2 separate regions of the Homo sapiens genome follow, and region 2 is linked to region 1. Evidence: fine-mapped expression QTL. A gene starts in region 1. The other region holds a variant in brackets. All regions are shown on one strand. Distances are between the middles of the regions. Region 1 holds the start of SEMA6A (semaphorin 6A). Region 2 has its middle 71 kb from the start of SEMA6A.

The links. PIP is the estimated chance that this variant, and not a neighbour inherited with it, causes the effect.
Region 2: its variant is the best candidate, but not a certain one, in a credible set for the expression of SEMA6A in cerebellum (GTEx, PIP 0.88).

The regions. Positions count from the first base shown.
Region 1 is chr5:116,572,032-116,577,407 of GRCh38, forward strand. SEMA6A (semaphorin 6A) reads right to left here and starts at 2,792. Exons shown (of 19, transcript NM_020796.5): 1 at 2,154-2,792. It overlaps SEMA6A-AS2 (SEMA6A antisense RNA 2), which reads left to right and starts at 2,387. Exons shown (of 3, transcript NR_147170.1): 1 at 2,387-2,508. RefSeq lists an enhancer at 69-850 and a silencer at 2,548-2,627.
Region 2 is chr5:116,642,777-116,648,152 of GRCh38, forward strand. No RefSeq gene overlaps it. Among named protein-coding and RNA genes, the nearest start is that of SEMA6A, 71 kb to the left of the region's middle. The variant AGTT/A (reference allele first, on the strand shown) is at 2,485.

The sequences.
Region 1 (5,376 bases):
AAGGACGACGAACAATTTCAGGACTAAAGAAAGACAAGGCAAAGGCACTCGACCTTCCCATCCTGGCAAGACTTAAAAACCAGCGCTGGGGGGCATTAAATAGCTTTTCTGAGACCTGCTGGCACAACACTGCAAGTGGGTTAAACGGCTTTTCAGATCTGAGGTAAAGAAAGTTGTGCGTACAAGGGCGAGTGTGTGCGTGTGTGTGTCCATGCACGCCTGTGTTTTAAACCTTTCACAGATCGCATTCAGTAGCGTAAAAAAGCTGAGCGTAAAAAAAGGAGCGATCCCACTGTGGCTGTGCCTGGCCACCGCAGTTCCAAAGCAGCCACCTTTCTCCCAAAGACCGACGCGAAAAAGCCTGCAGGGCTCCCCAGTGCGATACAGGCCGGAGACTCCCTGGAAGTGCTTGCCCCGGCTGTGAAGACAGCGCCTCCAGTCTCCCATTCCTCTCCCGCTCCACGCACACCTGGCTCTGCTTCCTCCCTCCCTGGATAGCCACGCTGGGAAATCGTGCGCAGGGAGCAGATGGCTCGGGATTCTGCACCTGAAGCTGCCTACTTGCAAGCCACTGAGCCCCGGCCTGTGTCCACACGCACCTTCCCCACAGCCTCTGTCCACAGTGGCCGCACCTGCCTCCGGGGTCCTGCTTCCCCATTCATCCCTTCCCCGACTTGTCGAGCAAGTACCGCGGGCCAGGAGGTTCCACTCTCCAAAGGGCCGGGATCTAGCTCCTAGCTGCATCCCGAGCTGTCCGCATGATTCCCTCCAGGTCCGGCTTCCCTCAGACTGCACATGCTGAGCCCCAGTCCGGTCGTGCCTGCCGCCCCTGGCTTTCAGGGAAACTTTCCAGGAGCGCCTGGTCTAGTGACCCCGCCGCTGTAAAGTGGGAGGAGGCGCTGGGCGGAGGGGCGGCGAGGGAGCGGGAAAAACAGCGGAATTCTGTTTCCTTTCCCGACGTCCACAAGCCCGGGACCGCTCCCTGGCTCCCCCCGTGCCGCTCGGGTCTTGCGAGGAGGGAGGAGACCTCAGGATCCTGTTTTGCACCATCTCCCACAGCGAGGAGCTGAGCAAAACGCGGAGAATCGGGACAAGAGACACTTCCCGCCCCAGAAGGATCAGGCAGGGTGGGTGGGCACTGCCCGGCTTACTCTCCAGCGCCCCATTGCCCCCATGGTAGCGCCCTAGGACACAGTGAGGAGTCGGAACAGAGCCCTAGTCTGGGTTTCAAACCCAGGGCCATCTTCTGCCAGGTCTCTCACCCTTCCCCCTCCTGGGTCATCTTTCCAGAGCGAGACCGCGCTGATCTGGGAGGAGGGCGTACCGTGCGCCAGCCCGGTGCAAAGGGCTCGGTGCTTCAGGAGGGACGCAGCCGCGACGGGCTATATCCTTGCCGCTCGGGTTGGGAGCTGCGGCGGGGGACAGGACCCATGGCGGGGGCGCCGCGTCACCCGAACGGCTGCTCCCGGACACTTATTCGAGCAAACAAAGCCCGGAACCTCTGGTGGCAGCGGCCACAGGAGCCAGGATCTCACCGAGAGACAGGGCGCGCGGGTGCCTAGAGCCATTACAAGTTTCTTGCACTCCACGGAGCCCAGCCCAGACCCCACACTGACAACAAAAGATTCTCTCCGCTTCCACACCGTCTCCGCGGAACCCCTTCTCCCACCTGGCACTGGACGAAAACAGCGCTGTTATACCCAACCCCCTCCAGCCCTCGAGGGCAGAACCCCTTCCCCTGCCTTCGACACACCGGGCCAGGGAGCTTCCGAGAATCCCACCATTTAGGGCCCGCTCTGCTCCCTGCTGGGCACGCGGGAGGATGAGCCTTGGGTCTCGCACACACACCCCCAGGAGGAACAGCCATACGCGCCGTCGCGGCCCGGGGCGGCGCCGGGCGTGTGCGCAACGCGGGTGGGAAAGCTCTCGACGTGGAGCCGGACGCACTCTGGGGCGCAGGGCAGAGAGGAAAGGCAGGCAGGGCTCACGGCTGCTCCCCCAGGACCGGGCAAGGCTCGGGAAACAGAGACACAAGACAAAATAAAACGCAGGCACCACAAAGCCGACAGCACGCGCTAGCCACGGCCCCGGGACCCTCAGGCTGGAGTCCAGCTGCCCGGGAGGTGGGGCGCGCCCGGGCGCCCGGGGCGTACCTTTTCGGTGCATCGACGGACAGGCGGCCGGGGCTCGGAGCGAACTGGTACAGCGTGTATCCCATTTAGTAATCCATTATCGAGGGGATCTCTCCGGGCCGCGGGCTGCGCTCTCTCCTTCGCAAGCCTTTGTCATTCCTACATGTGTGCTTGTCTCTTTGGGGGAAATAGTCGCGGCGACTACTTTCTGGGATGCAAACGCGATGTGTTCATCTCCAATGACGAGCGGAGAAGGGGAGAGGAAAAAAGAAGCCAAAAAAAAAAAGAAGAAAAAGAAAAAGAAAACCAACAAGGAAGAGGGTAAATGTTCAAGAAACTCTTCTCCAAATCCAAATTCCACTTGGATTCCACTTCGGTGAGTCCCCTTGGTGGTGTCTGCGCCGATTAACAAGTCATTTCAGGGCGGGGGGCGGGGTGGGGGCTGGGGCAGGGGTGCAAGGCTCTGGCCCGGCTCTGCGGCCGGCAGCGCGGTGCCGCGGGTGTGGTGATGCTGGCCGCTGCTACACGCTGCTAAGCGGGCATCGCGGGCGACCGGCACCGCGGAGGAGCGCCGCTGCTGGGTTCCGAGCGCCTGGGCAGCCGAGTGCGCGGGGAGCGGAGTTGGCTGCAGCCTCACCCCGTGCCGCTCACTACTCCTCTGTCACCGGAGAGGCCGCCGCTCCCGGGCGGAGCCAAGTCCCGGACTGGATTGCGCAGATCGGACTCTCCTTCCGCAACTCCGCCTACTTTGGCTGGCGTCTCCTCCGACCCAAAGGAGAGCTGTGGTGTATGTGAGTGCGAGTGAGCGAGGCAGAGGCGGAGAAACTACGCGGTGTGGCTGCAGGTGGAGCCTTGGACCAACTGGCCAGCGCCGCTTCCTTCCACCAGGATTCCTGGCCCCACCGCGCGCTAGGCGGAGGCTCAGCGGGGGCGACTCTGGCTGGAGCCCAGCCCTCACCTCCCCCACCCCCACATCTGCTCTAGCTAGGAAAAAAAAAAAGAAAAAAAAAATCCCGGACAGCATTGCTGAGTCCTGCCAAATCAGAAAAATAAATAAAAATAGACGTAGTGCAGGAGCGAGTTACAAGAAAGGTTTTGTTCATCGATTTTCTTAAATGGAAAAGTTTTAAAGGATGAGGGTAAGTGAACGGCGAGCTTTTCTGATTCTGATTACTGTTATCAAGAGGTAGATTCCAGAAGCGATGGACGCTCTACGTAGTTAGATGAATTGGATAGAAGCCGGTGCGGTTAAAAATACACTTGGAAGATAAGAACACAGCTATTAATTACGCACATACACACGTTAATAAAGCATGTGAAGTAAGCAAATAAACTACAGTGCAGAGAATGGCGTTTTTAACGACGGCGATCTATTTTAAAACTTAATGAAGTTCACATTTTGTGGACTGGTCTTAGAAATAAGTAAACTTCAGAAATAACACGCATACAATTCCAGTGAGAACCCAAAAGGTTTATGGAAGAAGAAAATCGCAACCACTTCCAAGGCGCTATTGTTATGATCACATGAAGAATGGCAGGCACAGCCTTCTTTCACCACTTGAACTTTCAATAGCTACAAAGTCTTGCAGTTACAGGCTTGTGCCAACTCGTCGGGCCACACCACGTTCCCCTCCCCCTGCCGCTGCGCCCCGAAATCAACTGCGCGCCGCGGCTCTTGCTCCCCAAGGGGGCTTCGCAGATGGTACGGATCCTAGTCGCAACCTTTAAACAAAGTAACATCGGGCGGCCCAGCAGTTCTCGGAGAGATATTTACTAGTCATGGAGTTGGCTGAGAAAAGCAAGTGCGGAGATCGGGGTCTCAGTCCCACTTAGGCCGAGTTTCTTTATATTGGAAACTGTACCTGTTCCCTAATTGGGACTAAGACCACTAATAAGTCCACGTTCCCTCTTTGGTCGCTTCTCTAAGTACAGACATCTGCTTAAGAGGCTTCACGAAGAATAAATGCACATGGGTCAACACCCATTCCCCCCGCACCACTACCACCACCTGGAAAAGGTAGGGAGAATGGTAGGAAAAAAAGAAAAAATCAGTACCCCTGCTGTTCTCCAGAGCTGTCAGCAGGGGCCGCTATCCCCACCTTTCTCGGGCAAAGGCCTCTATAGACCTGGGGTAGTGGGGGGCGCGGCCCTAGGTGCGCGCGCAGCCCCCGCGGCTTCAAGAGCCAGCCTCGGGAGGGGGTTGGGGAGTGTGGGGCGGTGGGTAGGATTGCGCTTTCCCGCGGGTTGGGTGGGGGCCGGCTCCAGGACGTCTCCTCAGAATCCCGCGGGGTTAGGAGAAGGATCTGGCGGCCAAGACGGCTGGATCCCCGGCTGCGCTATTTAACACCCAGATTTTGGCTGATGACTGCAGGGTCAGTGTGAGCTGGTCCCCTGGCTCGTCCGTGCGCCCCAGGCGCGGTACTGCAGCCCCTTCGAAGCTCCGGACCCTTCGGCCTCCGGGGTTTTTTGTCCCGCGCTCCACCCAACCGGGGTCGCCGAGGCTCCTTCTTCGCTCCCCGCCGCCGATTTACATGCTAATTGTGTCTGGGAAAAGTTCTTAAATTGGCAGAATTAGGCAGAGCAAACGAATTGTTTCACAGGCCGAACTAAATTAATTTCGGGTTTAGCTCCTTCCCTTAGAGAAACAAACAATTAAGTTGTTTTATTTGCTTTATGGATATATTGGAAATGCCCCACAACGAGTTTCAGGATATTGTTTAAAGGGACATTATATTCAATATTAATACTTGCATGTTTAATTTGTAGTAACGCTGAGCCAAGAAGCGAGCGATTAAATTTACCTAATTTAAAATTATAGAATACGAGAGTTAAAGAATTGGAGTCTACTTTTCACAGTGAAGAAATACCACCCAGAATCTTCCTGGCAATTACTAGATCCTAGTCTCACCATCCAAGTAGGAGCCCTTCCTTCTGACCACGTGATATTACATTTCCACCTGCCAGAAAAGATGCTCCCGGAGCTGGAAGAAAAGCCAGCTATTGTCAGGCTCCCGAAACCCCCAGGGGAGCACCTGTGGGGAAGCCAGGCTATGAAACCTCATGATGTCATTTCCCCATAAGTGCGCCTCAGACTCACTTCCAGAAGCCTGCAGTAAGTTTTCAGTAAAACCACTGCCCCTTCAAAGCCTTTGAAGTCTGCAATTTATACCCTGTCCCTTCAGGAAAAGAAAGCCAAAGAGTTAAAGAATCACAGAGTGATGAGAAGGTGACTTCAGTGGTTTTT
Region 2 (5,376 bases), 71 kb after region 1:
TCAAAGATGGAATATCTCCTATCCCACATACTTTTCTATGATGAGACATTGGTAGTCCTACCATTGAGAGTTGGAATTGATATCTTCCCTTGAACCTGGATGGGCTTGTGACTCATATGTAACCAATACAGTACACAGTAGAAATAACGCTTTTAACTTCTGGGGCTAAGTCAGAAAAAGAGGTTCAAGTCTCCCCCTGTTTACTGGGACATCAGGTAAAAAGTCCATCAAGTGAGAAATTCAATTCCTCTGGGGCCACCATGCTTTGAGGAAGCTCAGGCCACATAGGGAGGTGATCTGTGGGTGCTTTGGTTGACATTCCCAGCTGAGGTCCTAGCTGATGGCCAGCATTGACAGCAGACATGTGAAGAAGGCACCTGCACATGATTCTAGCCCCCAGCTCTTGAGTCACCCCAGCCATTAGGTATTCCCAGCTCAGTCCCCAGACATCATGGAAAAGACGCAAGCCATCTCTGCTACACACTCTGAATTCCTTACCCTCTGAATCCATGAGCATAATACAATGGTCGTTTTACACCATTGAGTTGTGAAGTGATTTGCCGTGTAACAATAGTAACCAGAACAGAAGATTTCTTGAAAGAGAGAACATTCAAGCCAAGTTAACTTCAGATGTAAAAAAAGTGTAATATTAAATGAGCCTGGGTAATTGTATTCTCAATTGCGTAGGAAACTTTTTGAATTTCCCTTTTGCATTTGATGTTCTGGCTATTGAACATTCTTTTGTAGAAATATCTCTAGATGTCTATCTGATTCCAGAGCATTTACAAAGATTTTGGAATGCAGCTCTTTCTTGTGATTTGATTCTGAGATGACACAGCACCATCAAATACAACTTAGCAGAACCTAGCTTTTGAAGAGAGTAACTAACTTTCATACAAAAAGTTGACAACTTCATTAGCAGAGTTACCAGTACACATTTTATATAAAACTAACAATACTATTTACATGGTCACATAAAAAGCTTTGTAGGATATCTATCTATATCTATCATCTATCTATCTATCTATCTATCTATCTATCTATCATCTGCCTATTATCTATCCATCTATCTAAACAACAGGAACATATTAATGCATTGTTAGGCAATTTCATCATTTTGAGCAGTGGTCCCCCACATTTTTGGCACCAGGCATTGGTTTTGTGGAAGGCAATTTTTCCATGGACTGGGGCAGGGGAGGGGGATGGTTTTGGGATGATTCAAGCACATTACATTTATTGTGCACTTTATTTATATTATTATTGTATTGTAATATAATGAAATAATTATACAACTCACCACAATGTAGAATCAGTGGAAGCCCTAAGCTTCTTTCCTTGCAACTAGACAGTTCCCATCTGGGGGTGATGGGAGACAGTGATACCTGAAGTGTGTTGCTTATGTCCAGTCTACTCCATAATCTCGTTTTGGTTGCTGTCACTGCAGAAAACCCTGCTTCACAAAGATAGGATGTTGGAAATGGAAGCAGACTTTTCAGTGCTTCTGTGGTAATCTCAGGATATTCCATCTCGACTTTAATTCAGAACGTATGAAGATTTGAAGTTGCGTCAAACATACTTTTAAGGGCACCGCCATTTGCAATCTCAAGCAGTTGTCCTCTTCTACAACGGACAAAGTCAATTCCCCTGGCTTATTCACAAATGGGTGATGGATCCATTCCTTCCCAGTTCAGGGTCTTTTATGGTTGGGAAGCGTATAATCAGGGTTCTCCAGGGGACAGAATTAATAGGATATATCTATATATGAAAGAGAGTTTATTAGGGAGAATTGGCTCACATAATTACAAGGTGAAGTCCCATGATAGGCCATCTGCAAGCTGGGGAAGAAAGAAGTGAGTAGTGGCTCAGTTCAAGTCTAAAAGCCTCCAAGCCAGGGAATCTGACAGTGTAGCCTTCAGTCTGTGGCTGAAGGCCCGAGAGCCTCCAGCACTCACTGGTGTGAGTCCCAAAGTCTAAAGGCTGAAGAATCTGGAGTCTGATGTCCAACCGCAGGAGGAGCAGGAGGAAGCATCCAGCACAGGAAAAAGAAGGCAACCAGGAGACTCAGCAAGCAAGGTGTTTCCACCTTCTTCCCCTGCTTTGTTCTAGTCACGCTGGCAGACAATTGGATGGTGCCCACCCACATTGAGGGTGAGTCTTCCTCTCCCCATACACTGACTCAAATGCCTATCTCCTCTGGCAATACCCTCACAGACACATCCAGAAACAATACCCATCATCCAGGCATCCTTCAATCCAATCAAGTTGACACCTAATATTAATCACCACAGAAAGTAACGTTCAAACTCTTGAAAGCTGAGATAGGTGATCACGCACCAGCTGGGAGAAAGAAGGCCTTGGCTCAGACTCTTTCTTTCAAAATTTCTGCTAATGTTTGAAACATGTTAGAAATCCCAAAGTTCACTCATCAACCCATTGTTCCAGTTTGGTTTTGAAAGCAGCCACTTTATCTGCTGACTTGAACAC[AGTT/A]GTTGTTGTTATCCCCTGAAGTGACAGATTGAGTTCGTTGAGCAGGTTGAATGTGTCACACAAGTAAGCAAGTTTTGCAACCCATTCTGTGTCACTGAAATGTGCTGCCAGTGTTGCCTGTTTTTCTAAAAGAAATCTCTGGAGTGGCTCTCATAACTAAAAAACTCTGGCCAGTGATCTGCCTTGAGAAAGCCATCTCACTTCTGTGTATAAGAGAAGACATGTGTGCTCTGTATCCATCTCCTCTCAGAGCTGTGCAAACAGATGTGAGTTATGCGTATGCACTTTATTGTGGTTGATAATTTTAATCATATCCTACAAAATGTTGTTAAGTTCAGGTGACATTTTTTGGCTAGCCAGCATTTTTCTATGGATGACACAGTGCATAGACTAATATTCAGAGGCAACCTCTTTGAACCAAGCAGTGAAACCTGAAAGCTGTTTGGTCATGGCAGCTGCTCCATCCATGCATACAATGACACAGAATGACCAATTCCATTTTCCTAATGTGTAATCATTCAAAGACTTGAATAGTTCTGCAGCTGTGGTGTTAGTTGGCAACAAAAGCACACATAATATACCCCCATGCACATCCTCCTGAAAAATATATTGCACGAAAACAAGCATTGTTGCCTTGTTGTCAACATTGCTAGACTTGTCAACCTGGAATGTGTACCACAGTGACTCATTAATCCTCTCTAACAATTGTGCTTCAACATCCTCTGCTTTTTCATCAATTCATCCAGTTATGGTGCTAGCTGAATGAGGAACACAAGGCATATTTTGAACCGCAGCCTCTCCTAAAAGTTCACAACAAATGTCCTTAGCAGTGGGCAGGATCAACTCTTCACCAATAGTAAAGGGCTTCTTAGCTTTAGCAATGTGGTTAGCCACTAAGAATGATGCTTTCAGTGGAGACACATTTGATGAAATGGTGGCCTTCAATAATTGCTTCTGTTCTTTGTGTTCACAGTTTTTTTTCTTTTGAAAAATTCCACAGGCTTGTCTTTTAATGCAGGGTGCTTGGTCTCTATGTGGCGAAGCAGTTTTGAAGGTTTCATGGCTTCATTGAATAGCTGGTTGCCACACGCTATACAAAGCAGGTTTGGAGAATGTGAATCACCTGTTGCAATGAACCCATACTTTAAGGAGGACTCTTGGTATTGTCAAGTGCAGCTTTCTTTTTGTTGGCAGTCTTAGAGTCTTCTGCTGTCTCATCATTGGGTGTTTCCCCCTTTTGGAAGAAGCTCTCCAGTGATATTTGCTTTTTACTCATTTTGGCTAGGGTTATCTTGTGGACTTAGCAAAACTGTGACTGAGACAAGTGCACAGTGCAGAAAGAGGCATGAACAGAAATGGCAAATAAAATAATGGGTGGGCCACGCGTGGACTAAAATAAGTGTCAGATTCTGACTTAAACCCTGCCACTAGATGCAGCTGTACAATTGAAGTACATCAACTCACTTGCAACTATAAAGCTTGGCACCAGATGCAGTTTAATTGTCACTTGTCACTCACTGATAGGGTTTTGATATGAGTCTGCAAACAATTGACGTATTATGGTGTCTGCACAGTCAAACCTCTCTACTAATGTTAGTTGGTGTTTGCAGCCACTCCCCAGCACTAGCATCACCACCTCAGCTCCATCTCAGATCATCAGGCGTTAGATTCTCATAAGGAGCATGCAACCTAGACCCCTCACATGCACAGTTCACAACAGGGTTTGCGTTCCTACGAGAATCTATTGCTGCAACTGATCTGACAGGAGGTGAAGCTCACGCAGTAATGCGAGTGATAGGGAGTGGCTGTAAATACAGATGAAGCTTTATTTACTCACCCGCTGCTCACCTCCTGTTGTGCAACCCTGTTCCTAACAGGCCATTGACCAGTGCCAGTCTGTAGCTCAGAAGCTGAGGACCCTGTCATAGAGTGTACTTACATACGTAGATGGTATAGCCTATTACACACCCAGGCTATATGGTATATGCCTATTGCTCCTAGGATATAAACTATTACTGTACTGAATACTTCAGAGAATTGTAATACAATGGTAAGTATTTGTGTATCTAAACATATCGAGGCATAGAAGAGGTACAGTAAAAATATGGTGTTATAATCTCATGGGACCAGCATCATATATGGAGTCTGTTGTTGACTGAAACATTGTTATGGGCACATGACTATATATGATTTTTATAATTTACTTTTAAAACTAATTTTTGTTGTCACAACACTCATGCTTTTATTTTTTCCTTTAATTGTTTAAACTTTTGTTGACTTACCAAACCAAAGGGGAGAAATTTTTTTTTTTTTTTTTTTTTTTTTTTGAGAAGGAGTCTTGCTCTGTTGCCCAGGCTGGAGTGCACTGGCACAATCTCGGCTCACTGCAAGCTCCGCCACCCGGGTTCACGCCATTCTTCTGCCTCAGCCACCCGAGTACCTGGGACTACAGGCGCCCGCCACCATGCCCGGCTAATTTTTTGTATTTTTAGTAGAGACGGGGTTTCACCGTGTTAGCCAGGATGGTCTCGATTTCCTGACCTTGTGATCCACCCGCCTCGGCCTCCCAAAGTGCTGGGATTACAGGCATGAGCCACCGCGCCTGGCCGCAAAGGGGAGAAATTTTAAGTATGGTGGCTGTATACTTATTATTGGCTCATTTATCCTGGGCTATTCTGGCTTTTCTTGTGCAGTTGATTAACAGGTAATCAAACGGTTTGATTTCCGTGATTTCCTCTGTCTACCTCCCTGTGACTGCACAGATCTGTTCGTGTTGCCAGGCTGATTTTATAGTCAGGGTGCTCTGTTTGCATGTCTCTGGGACCAACAGTAGCCAACTCAAGGAAAAACCAGGAACAAAAAGAGGCTGCTTTTTTGGGATTTACTGCA